Linked DNA regions of Homo sapiens. The protein of the gene in region 2 purifies or fractionates together with the protein of the main gene of each other region. This does not show direct contact. Each region holds a gene or a part of one and is shown on either strand. Other genes may lie near its edges.

Evidence for each region.
Region 1: the proteins of OR2A4 (region 2) and BLVRB purify together in Homo sapiens (affinity purification with mass spectrometry; one large-scale study listed by BioGRID and IntAct). This does not show direct contact.
Region 3: the proteins of OR2A4 (region 2) and ANXA8 purify together in Homo sapiens (affinity purification with mass spectrometry; one large-scale study listed by BioGRID and IntAct). This does not show direct contact.
Region 4: the proteins of OR2A4 (region 2) and ACP3 purify together in Homo sapiens (affinity purification with mass spectrometry; one large-scale study listed by BioGRID and IntAct). This does not show direct contact.
Region 5: the proteins of OR2A4 (region 2) and SDR9C7 purify together in Homo sapiens (affinity purification with mass spectrometry; one large-scale study listed by BioGRID and IntAct). This does not show direct contact.
Region 6: the proteins of OR2A4 (region 2) and CYP4F22 purify together in Homo sapiens (affinity purification with mass spectrometry; one large-scale study listed by BioGRID and IntAct). This does not show direct contact.
Region 7: the proteins of OR2A4 (region 2) and GM2A purify together in Homo sapiens (affinity purification with mass spectrometry; one large-scale study listed by BioGRID and IntAct). This does not show direct contact.

The regions. Positions count from the first base shown.
Region 1 is NC_000019.10:40,448,746-40,452,245, forward strand, and holds part of BLVRB (flavin reductase (NADPH)), read right to left. Parts: intron 2,748-3,500; coding exon 2,619-2,747; intron 1-2,618. UniProt on the Homo sapiens protein: Enzyme that can both act as a NAD(P)H-dependent reductase and a S-nitroso-CoA-dependent nitrosyltransferase. Promotes fetal heme degradation during development.
Region 2 is NC_000006.12:131,699,144-131,702,748, forward strand, and holds OR2A4 (olfactory receptor 2A4), read right to left. Parts: upstream 2,259-3,605; coding exon 1,326-2,258; 3' UTR 501-1,325; downstream 1-500. UniProt on the Homo sapiens protein: Odorant receptor.
Region 3 is NC_000010.11:47,481,316-47,485,596, forward strand, and holds the start of ANXA8 (annexin A8), read right to left. Parts: upstream 2,801-4,281; 5' UTR 2,706-2,800; coding exon of another isoform or gene 2,619-2,705; coding exon 2,598-2,618; intron 1-2,597. UniProt on the Homo sapiens protein: This protein is an anticoagulant protein that acts as an indirect inhibitor of the thromboplastin-specific complex, which is involved in the blood coagulation cascade.
Region 4 is NC_000003.12:132,323,907-132,327,406, reverse strand, and holds part of ACP3 (prostatic acid phosphatase isoform PAP precursor), read right to left. Parts: intron 1-3,500. UniProt on the Homo sapiens protein: A non-specific tyrosine phosphatase that dephosphorylates a diverse number of substrates under acidic conditions (pH 4-6) including alkyl, aryl, and acyl orthophosphate monoesters and phosphorylated proteins.
Region 5 is NC_000012.12:56,927,909-56,931,408, reverse strand, and holds part of SDR9C7 (short-chain dehydrogenase/reductase family 9C member 7), read left to right. Parts: intron 1-924; coding exon 925-1,183; intron 1,184-1,855; coding exon 1,856-2,019; intron 2,020-3,500. UniProt on the Homo sapiens protein: Plays a crucial role in the formation of the epidermal permeability barrier.
Region 6 is NC_000019.10:15,532,525-15,536,024, reverse strand, and holds part of CYP4F22 (ultra-long-chain fatty acid omega-hydroxylase), read right to left. Parts: intron 1-3,500. UniProt on the Homo sapiens protein: A cytochrome P450 monooxygenase involved in epidermal ceramide biosynthesis. Hydroxylates the terminal carbon (omega-hydroxylation) of ultra-long-chain fatty acyls (C28-C36) prior to ceramide synthesis.
Region 7 is NC_000005.10:151,259,685-151,263,184, reverse strand, and holds part of GM2A (ganglioside GM2 activator isoform 1 precursor), read right to left. Parts: intron 3,431-3,500; coding exon 3,269-3,430; intron 1-3,268.

The DNA.
Region 1 (3,500 bases), on a different chromosome or scaffold from region 2:
TATGGAACACACACCCTTGGCTGTGTGTTTGCTTGGGACAAAGCAGACAGGAAGCTCCTGCCCTGGCTGGGCACAGTGGCTCACGCCTGTAATCTCAGCACTTCGGGAGGCCAAGGTGGGAGGATCACTTGAGCTCAGGAGTTTGAGACCAGCCAACATGGCAAAACCACATCTCTACAAAAAATGCAAAAATTCGCTGAGTGTGGTGGCTTATGCCTGTAGTCCCAGCTACTTGGGCAGGAGAATCACTTGAGCCCAGAAGGCGGAGGTTGCAGTGAGCCAAGATTGTGCCATTGCGCTCCAGCCTGGGCTACAGAGGGAGACCCTGTCTCAAAAAAAAAAAAGGAACACACACCTTCACCCATGTGGCATTCCTGCCCAACATGTTTAATCTGAATCTGTGACAAAACAGCTAGAAAAATCCAGAATGTGGGCCTTTAAAGTCACCTGGCCTGGTTAATGTTATGAGAAACTTAAAGAAAAAGGGCAGAGTGGGTTGAATTTTTTTTTTTCTTTTTTGGATAGAGTCTTGCTCTGTCACCCAGGCTGGAGTACAGTGGTGCAATCTTGGCTCACTGCAACCTCCACCTCCCAGGTTCAAGCAATTCTTGTGCCTCAGCCTCCCGAGTATCTGGGATTACAGGTGTCCGCCACCACACCTGGCTAATTTTTGTATTTTTAGTAGAGACGGGGTCTCACCACGTTGGCCAGGCTGGTTTTGAACTCCTGACCTCAAGAGATCCACCCGCCTCAGCCTCCCAAAGTGCTGGGATTACAGATGTGAGCCACCACGCTGGCCTGACAGTTGGGGAAATTTTACTACGGAGTGGATACTAAATGATATGACAGAGTAAATGTCACTTTCCTTAGGTGTGAGCATGTTTTGTGTGCAAATATCTTTCTTTTAGGAGATGGCTGTCTAGGTATTTAGGAGTTAAGTGCGACAATGTTGCAATTCCTCTCAAATGATTAAGCCAAATATACATATGCATATATGTTTTCACAATATATTCAGCAAAATCTAACTATATATTCATGGAGAGAGAGAGAGGAGGAGAGAGGGAGAGACAACAGGATAAAATGCTAAGCATTGAACCTAAACAAAGGGCTTATGTGTATTCATAAACCTTTAATGCTTTCAAATCGGGAGGTGTGGAAGTTTTCACACACTTGGCTGGGCGTGGTGGCTCACGCCTGTAATCCCAGCACTTTGGGAGGCCAAGGTGGGCAGATCACGAGGTCAAGAGATCGAGACCATCTTGGCCAATATGGTGAAACCCCGTCTCTACTAAAAATACAAAAATTAGCTGGGCGTGGTGGCACGCGCCTGTAGTCCCAGCTATTCGGGGGGCTGAGGCAGGAGAATCACTTGAACCCAGGAGGCAAAAGGTTGCAGTGAGCCAAGATCGCACCACTGTACTCCAGCCTGGCGGCAGAGCAAGACTCTGTCTCAAAAAAAAAAAAAAAAAAAAAAAAAAAGCCAGGCGCAGTGGCTCACGCCTGTAATCCCAGCACTTTGGGAGGCCGAGGCGGGCGGATCACAAGGTCAGGAGATTGAGACCATCCTGGCTAACACTGTGAAACCCCGTCTGTATTAAAAAATACAAAAAATTAGCCAGGTGTGGTGGCGGGCGCCTGTAGTCCCAGCTACTCGGGAGGCTGGGCAGGAGAATGGGGTTTCACCATGTTAGCCAGGATGGTCTCGATCTCCTGACCTTGTGATCTGCCCGCCTCGGCCTCTCAAAGTGCTGGGATTACAGGCGTGAGCCACCGCACCCGGCCATTAATATCTATCTTTTCTTGTCTTTTTCTTTTTTTTTTTAGACAGGGTCTCACTCTATTACCCAGGCTGGAGTACAGCAGCCTGGGCAACAGTTTATTGCAGCCTTGATCTCCTGGGCTCAAGCCATCCTCCCGCCTCCCAGTAGCTGGGACCACAGGTGTGTGCCACGACGCCCAGCTAATTTTTTTTTTTTTTTGTAGAGATAAGTCTATGTTGCCCAGGCTGGTCTCAAACTCCTGGGCTGAAGAAATCCTCCCGTCTTGGCTTCCCAAAGTGATGAGATTACAGGTGTGAACCACCATGCCTGGCCTATGTATCTATCTATCTATCTATCTATCTATCTATCTATCTATCTATCTATCTAATCTCTATCTCCCATACTAGAAATGTAAGCCATGGCGGGGCATGGTGATGCAGGCCTGTAATCCCAGCTACTCAGGAGGCTGAAGCCCCAGAATCCATAGACATAATGGATTAAACCATTAGCCAGTGGTAATCCCCTCAACCTTCAATCCCTCACCACTCCCCAGAGGTGAAAGTCCCAACCCTGTAATCCAGCCTTAGTCTTTCTGGTGACCAGACCTGAAGCTGCCTAGGGGCTGCCAGCTCTCAGTGAACTCATTAGCATAGAAAAAGACATTTACCATTTTGGAGATTCCAAGGATTTTAGGAGTTGTATGCCAGGAAACAGGGACAAAGGCCAAATATATATGTCACAATATCATAGGAAGGTTTGCAATTTTAGGGTGGTCAGGGAAGGCCTTGCAGATCTCCCCAGAGGGCAGGAGGGAACAGGCAGATGGCATTGGTGCCACCAGGTCCCTGCCCTGCTTACCTATGTGTGGCGGCATCACAGCCACGTACTTCAGGCCTGATTCCCGCAGCACCTTGTGCATCCGGATGTGGTCATCAGTCACAGCCTGCAGTCGTGGGGGCACCTTGGTAGGGTCCCAGAGCAGGAAAGCTGGAGGGAACACAGGGCAGGATCAGCCTGGGCTCTCTTGTCTTTTTTTTTTTTTTTTTGAGACAGAGTGTCGCTTTGTCACCCAGGCTGAGTGCAGTGGCGCAATCTCGGCTCACTGCAACCTCTGCCTCCCGGGTTCAAGCAATTCTCCTGCCTCAGCCTCCCCAGTAGCTGGGATTACAGGTGCACACCACCAGGCCTGACTAATTTTTGTATTTTTAGTACAGACAGGGTTTTGCCATGTTGGCCAGGCTGGTCTCAAACTCCTGACCTCAGGTGATCCACCCTCCTCCACCTCCCAAAGTGCTGGAATTACAGGCATGAGCCATTGTGCCCAGCCAAGGGCTCGCTTGTCTTGATGCCAGGACAAAACCCTGCCATGGCTGACCATTGCTTTCCAGTTGCAAAAACAGGGGAGTCCTCTGGGGCTCCTCTTTCCCTCACACCCCAGGTAAGAGCTGTCTGCTGATCACAATAATTCCAAATCTGACCTCTTCTCACTCCGCCTGGTCCTGTCCACTGTTACCTCTTGCCTGGACCAGCCCAGCAGCCTACTCCCTGGTCTCTCAGCCCCTCCTTCCCTCCTCCCAAGGAGCCCGTGAACACCCCTATCAGTTCACATCCATAGCTCCATCTCACTCAGGGTAGAAGCAAAGTCCCCATGGCCAGCCCTCAAGGCCCCACCTGATATGGCCCCATCAGCCCTCTGACGTCCTTGCCTACTCTGCCTACCACTCTCTCTTACACGCCTCT
Region 2 (3,605 bases):
AGGAGAATTGTTTCAACCCAGGAGGCAGAGGTTGCGGTGAGCCGAGATTGCACCACTGCACTCCAGCCTGGGCTATAGAGCAAGACTGTCTCAAAAAAAAAAAAAAAAAAAAAGGATAAAATAGTTTTAGGACATAGTTTTATATCTAACATGATATGACACTGAGTTATTGTGTAAAAAGTTATTTTAAAATATAAAAGTAAATTCTTTGAACTAAGACAATGAGAAATTAAATATAAATGTTTAAGACCAAACTTAAACCTAGAAAAAACATCATCTCAAAATGACATGTTTCCCATGGCATAAGAAGCTGCTACAACTTTTAAGTGTGTAGGTGGTGGATTTTGAAATCTTTCTAGATTTTTCTTTCTTGAGAAATCTGGGTTTATCTTGAAAACCCTGAATTAGAAAAATTAGATTGATTTCATTCAGCGGCAAACACAGGAAGATGTATACTGAATCATATTTCTTAAAAATCTCAAATTTAGAAGATTGTGAGGTTGAATGAGGTCATCTCCTGAAGCTTCTATAGCAGGAATGCCGATCCATGATGAAGGACAGGATTGCATTTATTTTCTTTAGATGATCTACCATTGAACAGTAGAGACAGGGTCCCTCACGGTCTGTATCCAAACAGAACCCGGATTTTTACAGACTGATCGAGGCATAATGCTCAGAACTACATCTCTTTAGAGGCTCACTTTGCAAGGAAAAAAGAAATCATTCTGCCCTAGAAGGGGGCTGTAGGAAGTATTCACAATGAGTCAATTAATATCAAGATCTCCTGTTCCAGGAAACTGTTACTAAGTATTACAAAGGAAATTTTATGTGCTCACATAAGTTTAGAAAACACTGGCTTAAAGCTGGTATAGAATTATTCTTTCCTAGAGAAATATTTACAGCATTCACTATGCTAATATGAATTGTGATCCCTAGACAGAGGCATCTGATGTGAAGTAAGTCTCAAACTTATTTGACTATAGAACTTATTTTTAAAGTCCTCTGAAGGGACCAGTGTTTTGAGGAAAACATTATGGGAGGTATGGGACTGGATCAAAAGCTAATGAGGATATTGTAAGGGGTATTGTCCTGGTGTGGAGTGGCTGCAGCACAACTTGAAGAGATCAATTTCTAGAATTTCATCCCACATCTGCTGAAATCAGTCATTTAAAGGTAGGGCAGGAGATAGCTCCATTTTAAATAAATGTCTCAGATAATTCTCATGTCCATTGAGGGCAGAGGTCCCACCAGTGCAGAGATGGGTTAAGAACCGCTCAATGATGTAACTTCCTAGGTCACTGTCAGTCACAATGCCATAATCCTTTTCATAAAGCCCTTTCTACTCCCAGCACTCTCTTCAAAGTATTCTTCACTTCTGAGTTCCTAAGACTACAGATAAGGGGATTGAGCATGGGATTAAAGAGGCTGTGAAACAGCAGGAGATATTTCTTCTGCTCCTTGGGGTTCCCATATCTGGGTCCAACATACATGATAATGGCTGTGCCATAAACGAGTCCAATCACACAGAGGTGGGAGAAGCAGGTGCGGAAGGCTTTCCTCTGAACTTCCCTTGATTGGATCTGAAGGATAGCACAGAGGATGCACATATATGAAACTACAATTGTGGACAAGGGTCCCACCAGCCCAGAAATTGCTCCGGCCAAGACCATGTTCTCATTGATGTGGGTATCTGCACAGGCAAGTTTGAGAACAGCCAAGATTTCACAAAAAAAGTGATAAATTTTCTGGGGCCTACAGAAGGGTAAAGGTAGAAGTAACACAAGATGAATCAAGGATAAAAGGACTCCAGTGGTCCAGGAAGTCACCGCGAGGGTGATGCAGACTCTCCAGGTCATGATGGCCAAATATCGGAGGGGGTGGCAGATGGCCACGTACAGATCATAGGACATCACCACCAGGAGGAGACATTCTGTGACAGCAAAAGTGGAAAACAGAAAGGTCTGCATCATGCGGCCCGCAAAGGAGATGGGCTTGGCTGGATGCAGGAGGTTCACCAGCATCCGGGGCACCGTGTTGCAGGCGTAGGCGATGTCGACGACCGCCAGGTGTGAGAGGAAGAAGTACATGGGGGCGTGCAGTCTGGAGTCCAGTGAGATGAGCCCCAGTATGGTCCCGTTCCCCAGCAGGGTGAAGACGTAGAACAGGGAGAAGAGCCCAAAGAGGAGCATCTGAATCCTTGGGCCAACGGGAAATCCCAGTAGGAGGAACTCTCTGATGGATGTTATATTGTCTCCCATATCCCTATGACAGAGGAAATCAAGTTAATGCTCATGGTTTAGGAGAAGTGTTTAAAAACAGATTCATTTTAACTTGTTCGGCACTCTTTGGTGAAGTAGAAAAGTGTTCAGACAGCTGCAGTGAGTTTTTGTGTTTTTAAATGAATGCTTCAAGACAATTTGGTAACGCTAAAATAAATGTTTAAAAAATATATGCAGGCCGGGTGCGGTAGCTCACGCCTGTAATCCCAGCACTTTGGGAGGCCGAGGCGGGCGGATTGCCTGAGCTCAGGAGTTCGAGACCAGCATTGACAACACGGTGAAACCCCATTTCTACTAAAAATACAAAAAATTAGCCCGGCGTGGCGGCGTGTACCTGTAGTCCCAGCTACTCGGGAGGCTGAGGCAGGAGAATTGCTTGATCCCAGGAGGCGGAGCTTGCAGTGAGCCGAGATCGCAACACTGCACTCCAGCCTGGGTGACAGAGCCAGACTCTGTCTCCAGAAAAAAAAAAAAAAGAAAAGAAAAAAAAAACGCGTGCACACGTATACATAGGTTTCTTTTTTATTACGTTAATTTTTTAATAAAGGCTAAAATTTAAAAATAAACATGTCACATATTAATATATCCTTTTGGTCTTTTTTTAAAAAAAATTTGGCTCAGGCCTTTCAGGGATGAATGTCACATGTCAATGTAGTACACAGTTTTTGTTTGATTCAGTGAGCTATCTCATATCCTTCAAATAAATTCTTCTTTTCCTTGGTCGTATTATTCAGAGTTTTTCTCTGTTATGTTTCAGAAACAATGAACACTAACTGATACACATGTCAAAGTCTTAAAACCACATTAAGTTTAATCTTAAAGTGGAAGGTTTAATTAAGGGCGGGCTATACTAAGGTTCGACATACCATCAGCCAAATACACCAGTGGTCATTCACCTCTTAAACTTTCCACTCTTGCACTGATCATCACCTCCACAGCATATATCTCACAAAATCTTTTCTTATCCAAGTGTAAAGACTTATTTTTTAGCCCAGAACATTATTTTTTGTTATTTACTTTCCCACAATGTTTAGATGAGCATTTATGTGAATGACTGAATAGATTTGCACTGTGTCATTATCTAAACACGAAAACAGGATCAGTAACTTTTGTTGGATTTGGGCTTACTATTGATAAACACTCTAGAATACACAGTTTTAAGCATTGTCTATGCAGGTGATTGGCAATAGTTCGATGAATTTATGAGGAATGCTGCAGAAAGAGTCTCTGAATTCTCTGATTGAACTCAGGCCTCCTTGATCCCACAATTAAAATGTTAGCATAAGCATGATATTGTCATTTTTGCTTAAATTTTATTCTCATTTT
Region 3 (4,281 bases), on a different chromosome or scaffold from region 2:
CTTTACAGAAAGGGAGCTGGACTCCCTTACACAGCTAGTAAGTGATGCTGTTGGGACTCCCCAGCCTGACTCAGAAGCTGAGCTCTATCTACCTCCCCTGCCCTACTGATGACTCCACCTTTCCCAGACAATGAGTGTTCCTGGAACGTTCCACTGAAGGAAGCTTCACCCACAGGAACGCAGGTCATCTGGGAATGTGGGAGGCATCTCAGCTCTCAGTGCCTGCCGGCTTCCCTCTGCCCCAGCACTCGGGGGCTGTGGTGCACCAGCGAGTGGCCAGGCTGTGTAACCGCATCCCTGAGGAGCATGCAGTCCCGCAGGGGTGCGGTAGGTCTCAGGTGCAGCATTTGTAAGCAGCTCCCTGGCTGGTTCTGATTTTGCTGCATTGAGAAGCCTCTGTCTCACTTCCCACTCTAAGGTTTTAGAAAATAAGTGTTCTGGGAATCGGAGCCCTGGCTATCAGTGTGGAGTCCTGGAGCTCCAGACCTCCTGCTGAGAAGGAAGGGTCAGCCTCAGGCTCCTGCAGGGTCTTGCCCAGGGCCGTGCTAGTCCAGACAGGCACATTTTCACTGAAAAGGTGACTCAGACCAGCCTGTGACTACATCTATTAATATAACTTGTTCTGTGACAGGCACAGGGGAGCTGCCACGCCTTGGCCTTCCCCTGCTACGTGGCTGCCCAGAGGCCTGGGAGATGGGTTTGTCTCTATGAGAGACACAGAGGAAAAGGCAACACCAAAAAGAGAGGTGCAGATGGACCCTGCCTGCAGACAGATCTCTCTCCAGTGGCTCCCTCATCTCCTCCCATCGCGTTCCTGGCCCAGCTTTGTGCCTAGAGGACACTGGGTCTTCGCTAGCAGCTCAGCTGTTGCAGGTGGGGTCTACCTGTGAACTTGCTACCCCTAGCCAGCTCTCACATGGGGTATGGACGACCAGGGTATGGTTTTGGCCCTGGAGTCAGGCTGTTCAGATTCTCACCTAGACTCTCACACTTACTAGTGAGTTCGGGCACCTGCCTAGCCTACTTGTGCCTCAGTTTCCTCATCTGTGGATAAGGATACTGGTGTCTACTTCATAGACTCCTTGTGAGGTTCAAGGGAGATATTGAATGTGAGGTGCTTAGAGAAGGGTCCGGCCACAGAGTAGGGACTCAGTGAGTGTCACAGTGATCCTGTCAATTTGGCAGGTCCCTACATGGACAGCCCTTTGTCCTGCTGCACTGGGTGCAAGGCCCAGTGCCAGACTGCCTTGGCCAGCAACTGACTTTGGAAACCACCCAGCACTGGGCTCTCCCTGCCATGTCCACCTCCTCAAAGGCAGGTTCCCAGCAGTCTGGTTGAAGCTGCAGGCCTCCATGGCCCCTTGTCCTGGAAGAAGGCTGCTTCCCTGGGGGCCAGGACAGCTGCCCCACCTCAGCCTGGCTTCCTCTTTGTCCCACCTGTCCAGAACCTAGCATGTCTGACCCTGAGGACACTTGCTTGGGTTGCGACATCTATGATCCAGAGACTCCCTGAAGCTGGACAAGCCTGGGTATCCCACAAAAGCTCACAGAGAACCTGGGGCTGGGCAGAGAGACCCAACTGCTCTCTGACTGGAGCCTGCTGGCCATTGGACCCTAGCAAGTCACTCAGTGTCTCTGAGCCTTCATTTCATCATCTGCAAAACAGAAAGTGCAGCCCTGACATCCTGAGGCTGCCTGGGAGGAAAGGAAAAGGGTGTGCAGAGCCGGCAGCCGGGAGATGTCACCTCTGTCCCCTTCTGGATATTCAACTCCTTAGCACAGCGATGGCCTCAGGCTCAACCATAGATGGAAAGCTCCCGAGAACCCATCAGTTCTGCTGGGGATGGGCTGCCCTGAGCCCCGGGTTCCTCCAGGCTCTAGCAGGCCAGGTCCTCCTGCTTCCCCTCTTCCCTCTCCAGTCTTGACAAATGAACATCATTGATCCCTGAGGTGAAGGCATTGATGGGTCCCCAACAGCAGGTTCAGGTTACTCTCATGCTCAAAGCCCTTCAGTGCCTTCCCACTTCTCTTAAGGTAAAGCCTAACTCCTCAGCCTGCCAGGCAAGGCCTTTCAGGACCTGGCCCTGCCTGCTTCCCCAGGTCCATCTCCTCCGGTACCAGGACCCTTGAGCTGTGCTGAGCAGCTTCCCTCGAAGCCAAGCTCCCTGCCCTCTGACCCTCTGCACACAGTTCCCTCTGCCAGGAGCAGTATGCCTGATTCTCCCCAAATGCACACGTGTGTGCACCCCATACACATTTACACACAAGGCTCAACCATGATACCCCCTCCTTTGAGTGGCCCCACCCCTGCAAGGGTCCCTCCCCTGGACTCTTCTCAAACCTCAGCTTCCCCCTTGCATTTCTAGATTTCTTCATCAGCCTGTCTCCCGGCCCAGGTCCCATCCCTGCCGTGGGCACTCTAGGCCTGGGACTGTTTCTTCTCGGCCCCTTCCCACCCTCCATGCTTGGCCCAGGAGGCAGCCAAATGTAGACTGAGCCACTCCCAGCCAAGGGCGACTTTACATTTCTCAGGACTCCCTGGTGACCAGCACCCAACACCATGCAGGAACCCAAATCTCCTGCCAGCTCCCACTTACCCAGGATTTCCACCAGGCCATCTCTTTCACCTCGGGGGCACCTTTCCCAGGGAGATGAAGAGACACAGGTTGGCCTCTGCTGGGACTCCACACGTCTGGCTCCTGCAGCTGAGGAGTGAGCAGGCCGCTCACTTGGGTGTGGGGGTGCAAGCCCGCCCAGGGCAGCGCCACACCTGCCTGCCGTCCCCTCGCCCCCGGGCTCTGCCTGGCTTTGGGCATCTCCTGTGGCTCCCAGGCCCCACCCAGACACTGCCCAGGCCTGCTCTGGGGAATTACACAACTCACTGGCAGATATTTGGGCTGTGGCTGTTACGCATACTGGAAATTCTTAGCTCCAGCCTGCGAAAGCCCCACTCAGTAAACACAGCTCCATGTTGATTAGGCTGGTCTCAAACTCCCGACCTCAGGTGATCTGCCCACCTTGGCCTACCAAAGTGCTGGGATTACAGGCATGAGCCACCGCACCCAGCCCATTTTCATCACTCCTAATAGCCATGGAGTATGCCATTTAATCAACTGCATATGCAATATTATTTTTTTTTTCCGGGGGCAAGGGGCTCATATTCACCACAGATGGGAGGCCAGTTGGTGAGAAGGTGGCAGGCGGCACAGCCACCTTATACAGCATGCCATACTGGTCCACTGTCAGACCGGTGATGGCCTCAGCTCCATCACCCCCCAGGCTGACTCTGGCTCCTGCCTGGCTCTGCCCGGCCACCACAACCCCTCGGGACCATTCAGAGGCATCACTGGAGGATGTGTGGTTAGTGGAGCAGCTGGTCATGGGGAGGTCTCGTTTCTTTGGTGGAAGGCATTCCTGGTTCCTCTCATGAACAGGTTTCATATTGCTTTGTGGTGTTCCTGGAGCCTGGAAGGAGTTGGCTTGCTCCCTGGGGCATCAGGAGGGGCTTCTCTGTAGCTTCTCTGAACCCCTCTCTGCTTCTGGCTGGGGCACCTACATCTGAGCTTCCAGTGGTGCTTCTGAGCAGCTGTAGTAAGCGTCCTCCCGGCTGGCTCGGGAGCCAGCCCATTTCACCACGCTTCCCGGGATCCACCCGCTCATCCTGGAGCCGCTGCAAACCTGGCCGCCGCCATCCCCAGCCCCGGAGCTGCCCCATACCCCTGTATATGCAATATTTGTTAACCATTCCCTTTTGGTGCCCATCTAGGTACAGGTATCATTTTTGGAGCTAAAGTATCTATAATACACTGGAAGTAACAGATGTCACCTCCATATTGTACGCCAAACCTAATAAGCAGAGCAAAACTTTTCATCCAAGCGATTTGGTTAACATTTTAGGATGTTTCTAATCTCTCAGTAATACAAATATGCTACAATAGATCTGTGTGTTTATCCTTTGGGCACCTGTGTGTGCCTGTGCATACCTGGAGAATAAAGTCCTGTGAGAGGAACTGCCATCCAAAGAGGGTGTTTCAGTCTGTACTGCCACCAACAATGTGCTTGTGCTTCTGAGCTTGCGTTTGGGTCAGGAGAATTTGAAAGTCATCAGGAACCAAACCAGGATATAAGGTTCAGCTGTAGCTGGAAAGTGGCAAGCGTTCCAAAGCTAAGACATTGGCTATACCTGGGCTGTTCACAAACTGTGAGTCCAATTCTAGATGAGATCCAGAAGTATGGTGAGCAACTCACTTATTTTTTAAGCAAAACACCTTTTTTTCTCAT
Region 4 (3,500 bases), on a different chromosome or scaffold from region 2:
GAGAAGCTGGGATTACAGGCACACGCCACCACACCCAGCTAATCTTTGTATTTTTAGTAGAGATGGGGTTTCACCATGTTGGCCAGGCTGGTCTTGAACTCCTGACCTAGTGATCCACCTGCCTTGGCCTCCCAAAGTGCTGGGATTACAGGCATGAGCCACCACACCTGGCAACATTTTATATACAATAAAAATAATAGATTTTTAACACCACATACAATTTGTGACCATTTTGAGCCAATGATTTGTTCATTTTTTGGAGATTAGGAGTAAAAGATTGCAGGTGGGGAGGTTAGGAAAGCTAATTCTCAATACTTTAATAACATACTTCTATATTTGTACCCATGTCATGCTATTGTGATTGCACATTTCTCTTTGGGAAGAGTAGTCTGGACTTTTGAAATCTTGGTGCTTTGATTCTAATATGCTTTCTCAGTATAATATCAAACCAAACACAAAGCCATCTTATGAGCAAAAGATAAGGAAAGAAAACACTGAAGAACTACAAGATGAAGTCTACACTGATGTCAGCAAATATTTTTAATATAGAGACAGCTGCATAACACCTTGATTTATCTGAGGTTACCCGCACCTGTACTTATACTACCTGGCTAAAATGTTCCATTGAAAAGTAAGCTAAGAACCTGCTCTTTTGAAATTCTGTAAAACAGAATTCAATAGACATTAAATAAGAAAACAGTCTCAGACTTTAGTCATTTTTGAGAAGGAATTCCAAGAAAGTGGGAGATGCTTGGTTTGTGTCTCTAATATCTGAAGAAAACAGATCTTTTGGCCCTTTAAACTAGTGACAAATTAAAACTTCGGTAGAGTAGTCTACAGAAACAGGGGCAATGATGCAATAAATGTTAAGCGATCATTTTGGTCAGGTGAGAAATTACTTTCATGAATGATCCCCTGAAGGCAGGAAGGACAGCTGCATATTTTTTTGTGAGCACCTGCAGTTACTAGTCTCAGGGGTGACTTGGTCATGATCAGAAATGATTATGGTTAATCATTGATGCCTCTTTCCACAATTGAAGTACATTTTAGAGTTTTTATATCCCAGGTAAATGTGTCTTTGAATAACTAAAGTTGTTACATGGTTTCAATAAATTACAAACCCCACACTGTTTTAGTTTCTAGGGCTTCTCAACCTCAGCATTGTTGACATTTTGGGCTAGATAATTCTTTGTTGTGGGGGTTGTCCTGTGCATTGTAGAATGTCTAGCAGCATCCCTAGCCTTTACCCACCGGATGCCAGTAACATTCCCCAGCTGTGACAACTGAAAAAGGCACATTTTCTGCCATAGGGGCAGAAAATCACCCCAAGTTGAGAGCCACTGAGTTAGCCAAAGAGAAGTCAGGTGAGAGACATTGTAATAAAATAATTTACATTGCTTCCCACCAACCTATAACCACAACGGTAACTCCTTAACATTTTTTGAACACTCACTTTGTCCTGGAAACTGTGCTAAGTGCTTCTCATAGATGTAATCTTCTCATCAGTTCCACAAAGCAGTTACTATTATTATTTCCATTTCACAAATGAGGAAGTTTAGCTTAATTAAGTGACCTGTCTAAACTCACACAGCATGTAAGAAGTGGTAGAGCTGATATTCAAACACAGGCTGTGCCTCCAACTCCAGCATACTTAACCACCTGTGAGAGGTTCATTTCTGTATGATCACACTCCTCACAGTCCCACCAGCTAAATCTGAATGGTCTGGGATCTAACGCTTCTTTATTAACTCTACTTAGTATACTCTTTTCCTCTAGGATTGGAAGGGGTGTGTGTGTGTGTGTGTGTGTGTTTTGTATCAGAAGAAACCAAAACCTTGATACGGAAACTACCCCGAAGGCACTGTGAACTATGTATATTATTGAAAGAATAGAACTGAGGTTATGCAACTAAATGACAGAATGGCCTGAGAGAGAAAAACAAGTGTGGTCACCTTAGCAGAGTGTTTTGAAGAGCAGAGAACTGGAACATAATCATGAGACTTGGGCAAACTTTCTCACTCTGGCCCATAGTTCAGAAATAATTGTACTCCCCTACATTTCAGTAGGTTTTAAGTGTTTCCAAGGTAGTTGCTCAAACATGCTGTCAACCCTTTGGAAGGGATGTCCTGGAGAAACACTTAATAAACCATTCTCCACTTCCAGGGCTGGAAATCAAAATGTGTGCACACACCCCTCCCGCAGGCAAATGTGAAGCTGGTGTTCCTTGAGCTTTTGGAGTTTCAAAATTCAGCTGGAGTTCTTGGACTATGCGAAGACATTCTTTTAATTCTGTGGTAGAGCAATCTTCTTAACTGCTGCTCTACCAATTATTACCTCTGTGCTCAGTCCAGCAATCATACTCTATGAAATCCTTTAAAAACCTAAAAATACTTTATTAGCAATTAGGATTTTTGCAGTAGTAGTGGTAATTGTAATAGAAAGACATCCAAGATAATAACAATTCCTGGCCAGGCACAGTGGCTCATGCCTATAATCCCAGCACTTTGGGAGGCTGAGGCAGGCGGATCATGAGGTCAGGAGATCAAGACTATCCTGGCCAACATGGTGAAACCCCATCTCTACTAAAAATACAAAAATTAGCTGGGTGTGGTGGCGCATGCCTGTAGTCCCAGCTACTCGGGAGACTGAGGCAGGAGAATCACTTGAACCTGGGAGGCAGAGGTTGCAGTAAGCCGAGATCGTGCCACTGCACTTCAGCCTGGTGACAGAGTGAGACTCCGTCTCAAAATAAATAAATAAAAATAAAAAAAAATAATAATTCCTTACATTTGCACAACCCTCCATGGTTTGTAGAATTTTCCCCTGCTACCTCTTTTAATTATTACATCCCCGTCTGAGGACAGGTTGGCACTACTGCTGCACTGAGCAAGTAAGAAAACTATATGATCAAAGAGATCATGTAGCTGTCCAGATCTCCTAATTCTCATGATAGTTGGCCCACTGTTTCCCCATCATACTACAATCACTTCACACTTTTAAATCATAGGTAACTGTTTTTAAAAGGACTTTTGGTTTGGTGCCCCCATGAATGAACCTGCTCCACTGAATCTGCTAAACAAATCTGGCATGTGGCTTAGGGTGTGGAGAACCTGGTGAGTACAGTCGAGGCTATATCCAGTGGAAAATGTAAAGATATACAAAAGTGGAGTTTTTTTTTTTTTTTTTTTGAGATGGAGTCCTGCTCTTGTTGCCCAGGCTGGAGTGCAATGGCATGATCTTGGCTCACTGCAACCTCTGCCTCCCAGGTTCAAGTGATTTTCCTGCCTCACCCTCCCAAGTAGCTGGGATTACAAGCACCTGCCACCACGCCTGGCTAATTTTTGTATTTTTAGTAGAGACGGGGTTTCGCCATGTTGGCCAGGCTGGTCTCGAACTCCCGACCTCAGGTGATCCACTCGCCTTGGCCTCCCAAAGTGTTGGGATTACAGGCGTGAGCCACTGTGCCCAGCCTAAAAGTGGAGATTTTTATCATGAGCCCA
Region 5 (3,500 bases), on a different chromosome or scaffold from region 2:
TTTATTTAAATATTTTATATATTTATTTATAAATATTATTATTTCCTTCTAGGCTTGTGAGTTCCTTGAGGGATAAGATGCTGTGTTGTTCATTTTATGTCTCCTTTGCCCTGTATTTTACTTTATTTTATTTTATATCGTTTTATTTCATTTTATTTTTAGAGACAGAGTCTCACTCTGTCACCCAGGCTGGAGTGCAATGGCACCATTATAGCTCACTGTAACCTCGAACAAGGTAACCTGTAACCCGGGCTCAAGTGATTCTCCCACCTCAGCCTCCCAAGTAGCTAGAACTACAGGCACATACCACCACGCCTGACTAATTTTTTTTCTTTTTTTGTAGAGACAGGGGTCTTACTCTGTTGCTCAGGCTGGTCTCAAACTCCTGGCCTCAAGTGATCCTCCCACCTCAGCCTCTCAAAGGGTTGTGATTACAAGTGTGAGTCACTGCACCTGGCCTCCTTCACCCTGTAATTGTCACAGACTAGATAAATGCATGAATAAATGTGTGAAGATGAATGAATGAATGGATTGATTTTGGTAGTATGTGAAATGCAGTTGGTTATACTTAAGTGAATAGAGAGGGAGAAGTATGATGGGGAAGGGATCTAAACATTAATTCATTGGTATGAAAATGAAACTCTTATCCCAAAGCTGATAGCTGAAATGCTGTCACCTAACACCTCGATTGTAGCTAGTACAGAGCGCCAGCTAGCCGGCAGACTTTATGTGAATCAGGAAAAAGTGTCCCTTCAGGGAAAACGAGTTAGTAAAAGACACACCTTCCTTTTATGTTATAGCCTGACCGAGTTATGTCTTGTGCACCTGCTCAACCATCCTTGAGGGCACTGAGCCGGTGGGGAGCAGAACTTGGTTCTTTCCCAGGCCCACTGATGATTTCTGTGTGGTTCATCTCACCCCCAGGCCTCTGGGCCCTGGTGAACAATGCTGGTGTGGGCCTGCCCAGTGGTCCCAACGAATGGCTGACCAAGGATGACTTTGTGAAGGTGATTAATGTGAACCTGGTGGGACTGATCGAAGTGACCCTTCACATGCTGCCCATGGTCAAGAGAGCCCGGGGCAGGGTTGTCAACATGTCCAGCTCTGGTGGTCGTGTGGCTGTCATTGGTGGTGGCTACTGCGTCTCCAAGTTTGGCGTTGAGGCCTTCTCTGACAGCATAAGGTAACTGGGCCCTGGTACTGAACAATTCTGGGTGAAAATCCCAGAGATTAGAGAGGGTTGGGAGTGACAGCATGTGGGCAGGGGAATTCCGCAGACAGGAAGCTAACACAATAGCAGAAGGAAGGTTAGACCTCAAGGTGCTTTCTCCAAGGACCAAGAGCAGGGATGAGGAGAAGAGGTAGGGTGGAAATACAAGGCATCAGGTGGGCCTTCCCTTGAGCGGCACCAGGGTGAGTGAAACCCTGTTTGGGCCTGTGAGAGGAGGGAGAGTCCCCCAAACAGACAGACAGGCCTGGAGGCACAGGTCCCCTCTGGGAGGTCCTTAGAGGAGCGTGCAGGCCTTGTGTATATCCACACCATTCACCGTGTGGGTGTTGAGTGAGGGGTTGCTAATGGGAGGGACCTGGTGGGAGGCAAGGCTTTGGCCTAGATTCTCTATTGACTTCTTCCCGCTGGTTGTGCCTAATGCAAATTGCCCAGAGACTGTTGGGCCAGTTTTGGAAAGGGCTGAGTCCCTAAGGAAGGGCTTATTTGCACAAAGGCAATGCCAGGGCCAAGTACAGGGGTGAGAGAAGCATCTCTAGGTTCCTGAAAGACCAGCCCATCCAGAGGTGACTCTCCGTGATGATTGTCATCTTGGGGCCCAGACTGACTGCAACTCTTCTTTCCCAGGCGTGAGCTCTACTACTTTGGGGTGAAAGTCTGCATCATTGAGCCAGGGAACTATCGGACAGCCATTCTCGGCAAGGAGAACCTGGAGTCACGCATGCGAAAGCTTTGGGAGAGGCTGCCTCAGGAGACCCGGGACAGCTACGGAGAGGATTATTTCCGCATCTGTAAGTTCCTGGGGCAGGAGAGGGGTCTCTGAGGGGGGCGAGTGGGTCTTGGGGTCATTAGCTGGCTTTCCGTTTACAGATGGTGAGACAAAATGCAGAGGAGTTCAGGACCCAAGGTCACATAGTGGCACAGCTGGGGTTTGAGAATAGAGAGCAAGTGGCAGAATCATCACTTCTGGAGCAGCCCGGGGAGTTAAGGGCAATTCAGCCCACTCCTGGCACCTGCCCCCACAGCATCATGATGCAGGGGAATCAGGTGAAAATGCACTGAGATAAATACAGCAAAGAGATCAAGGGCATGGCTGCTGGAGCCGGACTGCCTGGGTTCAAATCCTGGCTCTACTACTTACCAGCTAGGAGACTTTGGACCTATTACCTAGTTTTCCCATGCCTCAGTTTTCTTATTTACAAAATGGAGCTAAAGATAGTGCCTCCCTCATGGGGTTGTTATGAGGGTTAGTATGTGTGAAGTACTTTGCACATTCTGAGTGCTTGTTAATAAAGAAGAAAATGAGCACATGGGGATTTAAAAGGGAGGGTCTCTAGGCAACTCTCTTTCTTTCCCTGAGCTGAGGGTCTCCTGTGAATCATAGGTGTTTTTGGAGGGTAGAGGTGGGACACGGCAGCTGTTTACCCTGCTGCCCCAAAACTTTCTGCCACGAAAGTTGTCTGCTGGATGTCGTACGTCAACAGAGCACAAAGCCAAGTCAGCCATTTTTTTCACTTAATACATACACACTTTATTGCATTTTTGTTTTTTGTTTTTGTTTTGAATCAGTAATACAAAGCATGCAAGGCTGCCATGTCCCAAGCCTGTGTGGGGCTGGAGAGCTGGAGCGGACACAGCAGTATGCCTGCCCTTCACTGCCTGTAGCTTATGGCCCAGTAGGGGAGACAAACATAAATCAAAACACATGTGTTTATGGTAGATGTGGATAAGTGCTACAGAGGAGAAACAGGGTTGTGAAAGAAGAATGGAGCAGGAAGTTGCGGTCCCAATTCAGACTATGGTGAAGGGGAGAGCTTCTGAGTTGACTTTGAGGAGGAATAAGAGTTAGGTGTTGCTGGGAAGGGGAAAGAGGGGATGCGTAGGGACTTTTTTTCTGCAGGAAGGCTCTGAGGCAGAAAACTCCATTTGAGGAACTTTAAAGAAACCAGCAGGTGGGAAGCAATGGGAGGTAGCTGGGGTATACGGAATAAATTAGAGCATCAAAGCACACTGAGGATTAAGGGGTGAGGGAGAGGAAGCTATCAAGGGTGAGTGTTAGCTTTACAGCTTGAAGAACATGGTGAATGGAGGTGTCTTCATTCATTGATTTAGGGAAGTCTCAGGGAAAAATGTTTGGAGTACTCCTTAGATAAATTCATCTTTTAGTGCTAGACATGTTAGGATTCTGTGAGAAGAAAATGTCTAAGGATTTACACTAGTTGGGACTTACTCAGTGACAGAAGATCCAATGCAAATTATTTAAGCAGAAAAG
Region 6 (3,500 bases), on a different chromosome or scaffold from region 2:
GACCACGTGCTCTCTCTTCTCTGAGACTTTCCACCAGCTGTTCTCTCTGCCCCAAACACTCTTCCCTCATCCTGTATGAGAACTTGAATGCTTCTCCCCACCCCTGACCCAGCAGTCACTCTGGATTGTATCCACTTAGTTACAAGCCCCTTAACAGGAGGGTTCGTGTTGATTACTGATATGTTGTGCTAGATAAATTTTTATTAAATGAATAAATAAGTCAATCCAAGGATGGATGAATGAAAGAATAAATGGGTGGATGGATGAGTAGAGGGACAGATGAGTACATGGATGGATAAATAAGTGGATGGATGAATAGCAGATGGATAGATGGTGGGTGGGTGGATGGATGGATGGATGAATGGATGGATGGGTGGATGGTGGATGGATGGATGAGTGGATGGATGGATGAATGAGTGGATAGGTGGAAGGTGGATGGATGAATGAATGAATGAGTGGATGGATGAATGGATGGATCCTCCTTCTATATACTGAACAGATTTGGGGCTGAATGGGCAGAGGCCCAGGAAGGAAGTATCTGAAATTCGAGTGATATCACTTTTACCTGAATGCGACTCAGCCACCTACACCGACACAATCCCTAGGAATTGGCCAATTGCCTACACAATCATCCGCCCACTCATCCCCCCATTCATCACACCTCTTATGCTGCCTTTCTGTGCCCAACCCAAGCTGGGTGATGCTGGGGACCCACAGATGGCTCAGCTCTATGCCCTCCCTGGAGGAGCTCCTGAGTGGGGCAGGAAAGGGAAGCAGAGACACACCATGCAATTACCAAGAAGGTAGAAAGTGTGCTAGGTGCTAAGGAAGGCTCAGAAAAAGGGCTGTTGGAAGTCAGGGCAGGCTTCCTGGAGGAGGCAGCATTGAAGAGGAAAGCAGGAGTCTAGTCACTCCTCTCCTCTCTGCACTCTGGACTCCAAGATAGGCTCCACAGGGATCTTTCTGACACCAGGATCTGGTCAATAGCTGTCTTGTTCAAATACTTCCCGTGGCTCCCTATCACTCCCAGGATAAAGTACAAGTTCATTCACTTTGCTGTCCAGTTCCTGCTTAACTGTCAGTCTCATTTCCTATTCCCCCCAACATATCACCTTCACTCCAGCCACCCTAAATCACCTGAATTCCCCTGGAATTTTCACACATCTGCATCAAGGCACTGGCAGGACCTTCCATCTGGGACTCCTTCTCTGGCAAGCTCCTAGGCATCCTTCGGGGCCCAGCTTCACTGACACCTACTCCAGGAAGCCTTCTCCAAACCCCCTTCTCAGCTGAACCATTGTTCTCTCATCCTCAGGTTCCTTTTCCACTCCAACTCTGACCACAATGCCAGGAAAGTCTGTGTCCACGCTCCTCACCAGTTTTCCCCTCCAGCAAAAAGGAGATGGTAGGCCAGGTGCAATGATTCACACCTGCAGTCCTAGCACTTTGGGAGGCAGAGGCAGGAGGATCACTTGAGCCCAGAAGTTCAAGACCAGCCTGGGCAACACAGCAAGACTCTGTCTCTACAAAAATGTTTTTTAAAAAGAAAAAAAAAAAGAGGGAGAGATGGTAATGCCTACCATGGATGAGACGGTGTACGAAATACCCCCACATGGTGCCAGCATGGAGAAACTCATGCTCAGAAAGCTGCATATCACTATGTTTGAGAGCTTGGGTTCTGGGCCAGCCAGGTCTGAGTTCAAATCCCAGCCCTGCCACTAACTAGATATGTAAGCCTGGACATGTTACCACTGCCAAAGGAGAAAATAGAACAATCTTGCCTCATGGCATCCCTATAAGACTCAACAAGCTCTTGTGTTCCTGGCACATGGTAGATGCTCATTAAATACGTGCGTAGGTAAATGAATAATTGACCAACTGTTGGCTATTTTTATTACTATGGTTAAAATGATTATTTATTGGCATCAAGAACTTGTGAGATAAATAGTTGTGTTTCCTGTTAGTAGAAAATTAATGCACACCCTCTGTGGAAAACAGCAAGGTGGCTCCTTAAAAAGTTAAGTACAGAATTCCATATGACTTGGCAATTCTACTCCTAGGTATCTACCCAAGAGAGAAATGAAAACATATGTCCACCCCAAAACTTGAACACATATGTTCATAGTAGCATGATTCACAACATCCAAAAGGTGAATGGGTAAACAAAAAAAAATCCATACAGTGAAATGAATTCAGCCCTAATGACCAACCTGGACAACATAGCAAGACCCCATCTCTACAAAAATAAAAATAAAAATTAGCTGGGCATGGTGGTGCGTGCCTGCAGTTCCAGCTACTCGGGAGGCTGAGGCAGGAGGAGAATCACTCGAGCCCAGGATTTCAAGGCTGTAATGAGTTATGGCTACACCACTGCACTCCAGCCTCTGGGTGACAGGGTAAGACCCTGTCTCAAAAAAAAAAAAAAAAAAAAAAGAATGAAACTGATTCCTACTACAACGTGAATGAACTTCAAAAACATTATGCTGAGTAAAAGAAAACAGACACAAAAAGATCACATTTTATGTGGTTCTCTTTCTATGATGTACCCAGAATAGGCAAATACATAGAGACAGAAAGCAGATTCGAGGTTACCAGCGGATGGGAGGAGGAGGGAAATGGGAAGTGATTACTCAATGGGTACAGAGTTTTTTTATGAGGTGACTAAAAATTTTGAAACTGGAAAATGCTGGTGGTTGCCCAACATGGTGAATACACTAAATACCACTGATTGTTCACTTGTAAATGGTTAATTATATGTTACATGAATTTCACCTCCATTTTAAAAAGATGATATAAAAGCAAGCTACAATTATATGTCTATATATCATCATGTTCTCTATAAAGCATGTTTATCTACTTTCTCTCATTAAAATTTCCTAGTCCAAAGGCCCATAAGATGATGGGGAAACTGAAGCTCCAACAGGAGCTGGGCCCTCCTCCAGGCTCAAGGGCTGTGCAGCTCCAAGCTCAGAACAGCAAGCCACTCCCAGGTGTGGCCCCAGGAGGTCCTGATCCAGGGTGGTGTCTGTGACTGGAGCCTGATCTGTGTAATTCCAGGTGGGGGCACCCTGGGGCCAAGAGGCCTCACTCCAGGCTGACTCACAGCACCACCCTTTTTTCCATCCTGGAGTTCCCTATCTGGCTTCTCTGATGGGGTACACAGAATATCCCCTCCCTCCACTGGATGAGGGGAGGGCAAGAGGCTTAAGCATCTACTACATGACAGCCCCTGCTGGGGCACTACTCCTCGGTCTGTTTGGAGTCTCAGAACCAGGCAGGATGGTGCTCAGGAAACTGATGCTCTGAGGGGGAGGAGAAGGGAGGAGGAAGGAGAAAAAAGAGAGACCAGGCGCTGTAGCTCACGCCTGTAATCCCAGCACTTTGAGAGGCCAAGGCAGGAGAATCACTTAAGGTCAGGAGTTCAAGACCAGCCTGGCCAATATGGTGCAGCCCCGTCTCTACTGAAAAAAAAAAATACAAAAATTAGCCAGGTGTGGTGG
Region 7 (3,500 bases), on a different chromosome or scaffold from region 2:
GGAGGCAGAGGTTGCAATGAGCCATGATCGCGCGACTACACTCCAGTCTAGGCAACAGAGTGAAACTCCATCTCAAAAAAAAAAAAAAAAAAAAAGAAATTGGGGAAAAAGAAGGAGCAGAGGGGATCTGAGGCTAATTTTTCCTAAGCACAAGTGACAGTAAAGACAGAGGAGATTATGTAGGCCCAAATTTATGAAAGGTAATAAAGCAATGGAAAAGGAGAATAGGGAGTAAAACCCATCTTAATGGTTTGTGAAGAAGCCAGGAAAAGCAGGCTGAGGGCAGAAGAGCGGGTTTGCCAGCTTCTTGTTTCCAAGTCAGCTGCATAGCCCCCTCCCTGGAAACACCAGTGGCTGCATGGTGATGGCAGCAGAGGGAGCATGGCGGACGGCCTACCAGGAGAGCCCACACTCCAGATCAGCAGAGGGAGCACACAAATAAATGTGTGTGACCCTGGCAGAGAAACAGTCCAGTGTCCATACATAGGGAATGATTCCATCCCTTGGCCCAGATCCAAGGGTACAGGGCTTGACCCCCTATCACTTGAGGAACAGTAATGGAAACACAATGACTCTGCTAGGAAAAGGCTTGGTAGGAGGTGCAGGGGAGCTGAAAGCTGCCACATATCCAGGACTTGTGTCTGGGTCAAGAGACTGCAGGATAAGACAGATACTAATCGAAATGTTCACAAGATATAAAATGTACTGAGCATGTCCTGGGTGCCAGGCCCTGTGCAAAGCACTTTCCACATGATTTTCTAACTCAGGTATTGCTCAAGGAAAGCCCATAACGTAGGAGCTGTGATTAAGACAGGTCTAAGGATAATGATAGAAACACAGAATCCAAATCAGGAATCTTCTAAATAATTAACACAAAACTGGTACTAGAATAGATCTGGATCAGGAACAGACTGAAGGGCATAGAGGAGCATCATATAAAGGTAGCAATTTTAGCTAGAGAGGAAAGGACCATATTAAATGGTGTTGCAATGGATATATGAAAAGTCTTCATTGTTTTCTAAGAAAATATAAAAACATACACCCCTAAAATAGTCAATGGATGGAAACAAACAGGTTATTCCCAAAGTAAATACAAAAGGCAAATAAACTTATGAATAGACATCTACGCTCACTAGGAATGATGCAGGTTTATTCAAACATTGGGAGGCACTTTGGCAAAATGTATCAAAAGACCTAAAAAGTGTGTATCTAGAGAATCAGAAAATTATAAAAAGATGTACTATAAGAATAATTTCTACAAAGGTGGTTACTACAGCAAAACAAAAAACAAACAAACAAAAAAAACCCTCTGGCCAGGTACAGTGGCTCAAGCCTATAATCCCAGCACTTTGGGAGGCTGAGGCAGGTGGATTGCCTGAGGTCAGGAGTTCAAGACCAGCCTGGATAACATGGTGAAACCCCATCTCTACTAAAAATACAAAAAGTAGCTGGGCATGGTGGCAGGTGTCTGTAATCCCAGCACTTTGGGAGGCCGAGGCAGGCACATTGCCTGAGGTCAGGAGTTCAAGACCAGCCTGGCCAACATGGTGAAACCCCATCTCTACTAAAAATACAAAAATTAGTGGGGCGCAATGGCAGGTGCCTGTAATCCCAGCACTTTGGGAGGCTGAGACAGGAGAATCGCTTGAACCCGGGAAGTGGAGGTTGCAGGGAGCTGAGATTGCGCTACTGCACTCCAGCCTAGGCAACAGAGTAAGAACCTGTCTCAAAACAAACAAATAAACAAACAAACAAATAAAAACTACCCTGGAAACAAACTAAATGTTCAACAATAGACTTGTTATATAAATTATGAAAGATCCACATCAGAATATTTCTGCCATTAAAAATGATTGGGTGGGCTGAGCAAGGTGGCTCACGCCTATAATCCCAACATTTTGAGAGTCTGAGGCAGGAGGATTGCTTGAACTCAGGAGTTTGAGACCAGCCTGGGCAACACAGGGAGGCTCCGTCTCCATAAAAAATAAAAAAATTAGGTAAGCATGGTGACATGAACCTGTGGTCCCAGCTACTCAGGAGGCTGAGGTGGGAGGATCCCTTAAGCCCAGGAGGTCAAGGCTGCAGTAAGCCATGATCACACTACTGCACTCCAGCCTGAGCAACAGAGTGACACACTGTCTCTAAAATTACAATACATTAAAATAATAAAATAATGATTGGATAAAAAAAAATTGAATAAGTAGAGCCACCTAATCCTTGGAAAGATATGGACATATAGTATGAGGCAAAAAAAATAGCAAGTATAATAGCACATATCATATAATCCCATGAGTATAAGTGTGTATATATTTACAAACACATAAAAATTCTGATGGGATATATAAAGAGCAAACACTGACTATCTCTAGGATTTAGATTACTGGAGGACATTTACAATGAGCACTGCCTATTATCATACATATCCATTAAAAATAAATATGTGTGTTATGTATGTAATTGTATGGGGGAAAGTTGCAAAGAATATCCTATAAGATGTTAAAAGTGCTTATCCCTTATCACTAGGTAGTGAGATTTCAAGTGATTTATTTTATTTATTTATTTATTTTGGGACAGAGTTTCACTCTGTCACCCAGGCTGGAGTGCAGTGGTGCGATCCTGGCTTTCTGCAACCTCTGCCTCTTGGGTTCCAGCAATTCTCCTACCTCAGCCTCCTGAGTAGCTAGGATTACAGGCACATGCCACCACGCCCAGCTAATTTTTGTACTTTTAGTAGAGATGGGGTTTCACTATGTTGGCCAGGCTGGTCTCAAACTCCTGACCTCAAAAGATCCACCCACCTCAGCCTCCCAAAGTGTTGGGATTACAGGCATGAGCCACCACACCTGGCCTATTTTATTTATTTTTTGACCACTTGTGTTTTCTAAAGTGACTATATATTACTGGCTAATTGGTATATCAATTTTATAATTAACAACAAAACCAAATTGGCCAACCAGAGCTGTCAGACAATAATGAGCAGTTGGCCACCAGGCCCAGAGAAGGCCAGGACGCTTCTGCCAGGTGCAAGGTATCCGTCACTCCTGCCCTCACCAGGAAGTTGCTGGCGCTGACATCAGAGATTCCTTTCAATCTTATGATCCTGAGATTCCATGAACCTGTGAAAGAGTGTCTGAATCTACATGTCCTGTACTATTCTCTGGGAATCCAGGATTCTGAAATTCTTCACAGTTCCCCAAGCATACATGCCCCAGTACCCCTGCTGGCCAGACCCTCGCACCTCCCCTTCTCCACCCACCCCCAGGCTCACCTTCAGAGGAGAACTCAGGGGGACACTGGTGCTGCCCATGACACTGAGGGTCACATTTCCAGGAACGATGATGGGGTCAGGCTCCAGAGTCAGGCTTCTGATCACCGCAGGGTCCTTCCCTTCATCACAGTTATCCCAGGAAAAGCTACTGAGCTGGGATGGCTGGGGACAATCAGGCAGCAAGGAAGGAGAAGAAGAAAAAGGTTGACAAAAGAAACTATCACAGATCACA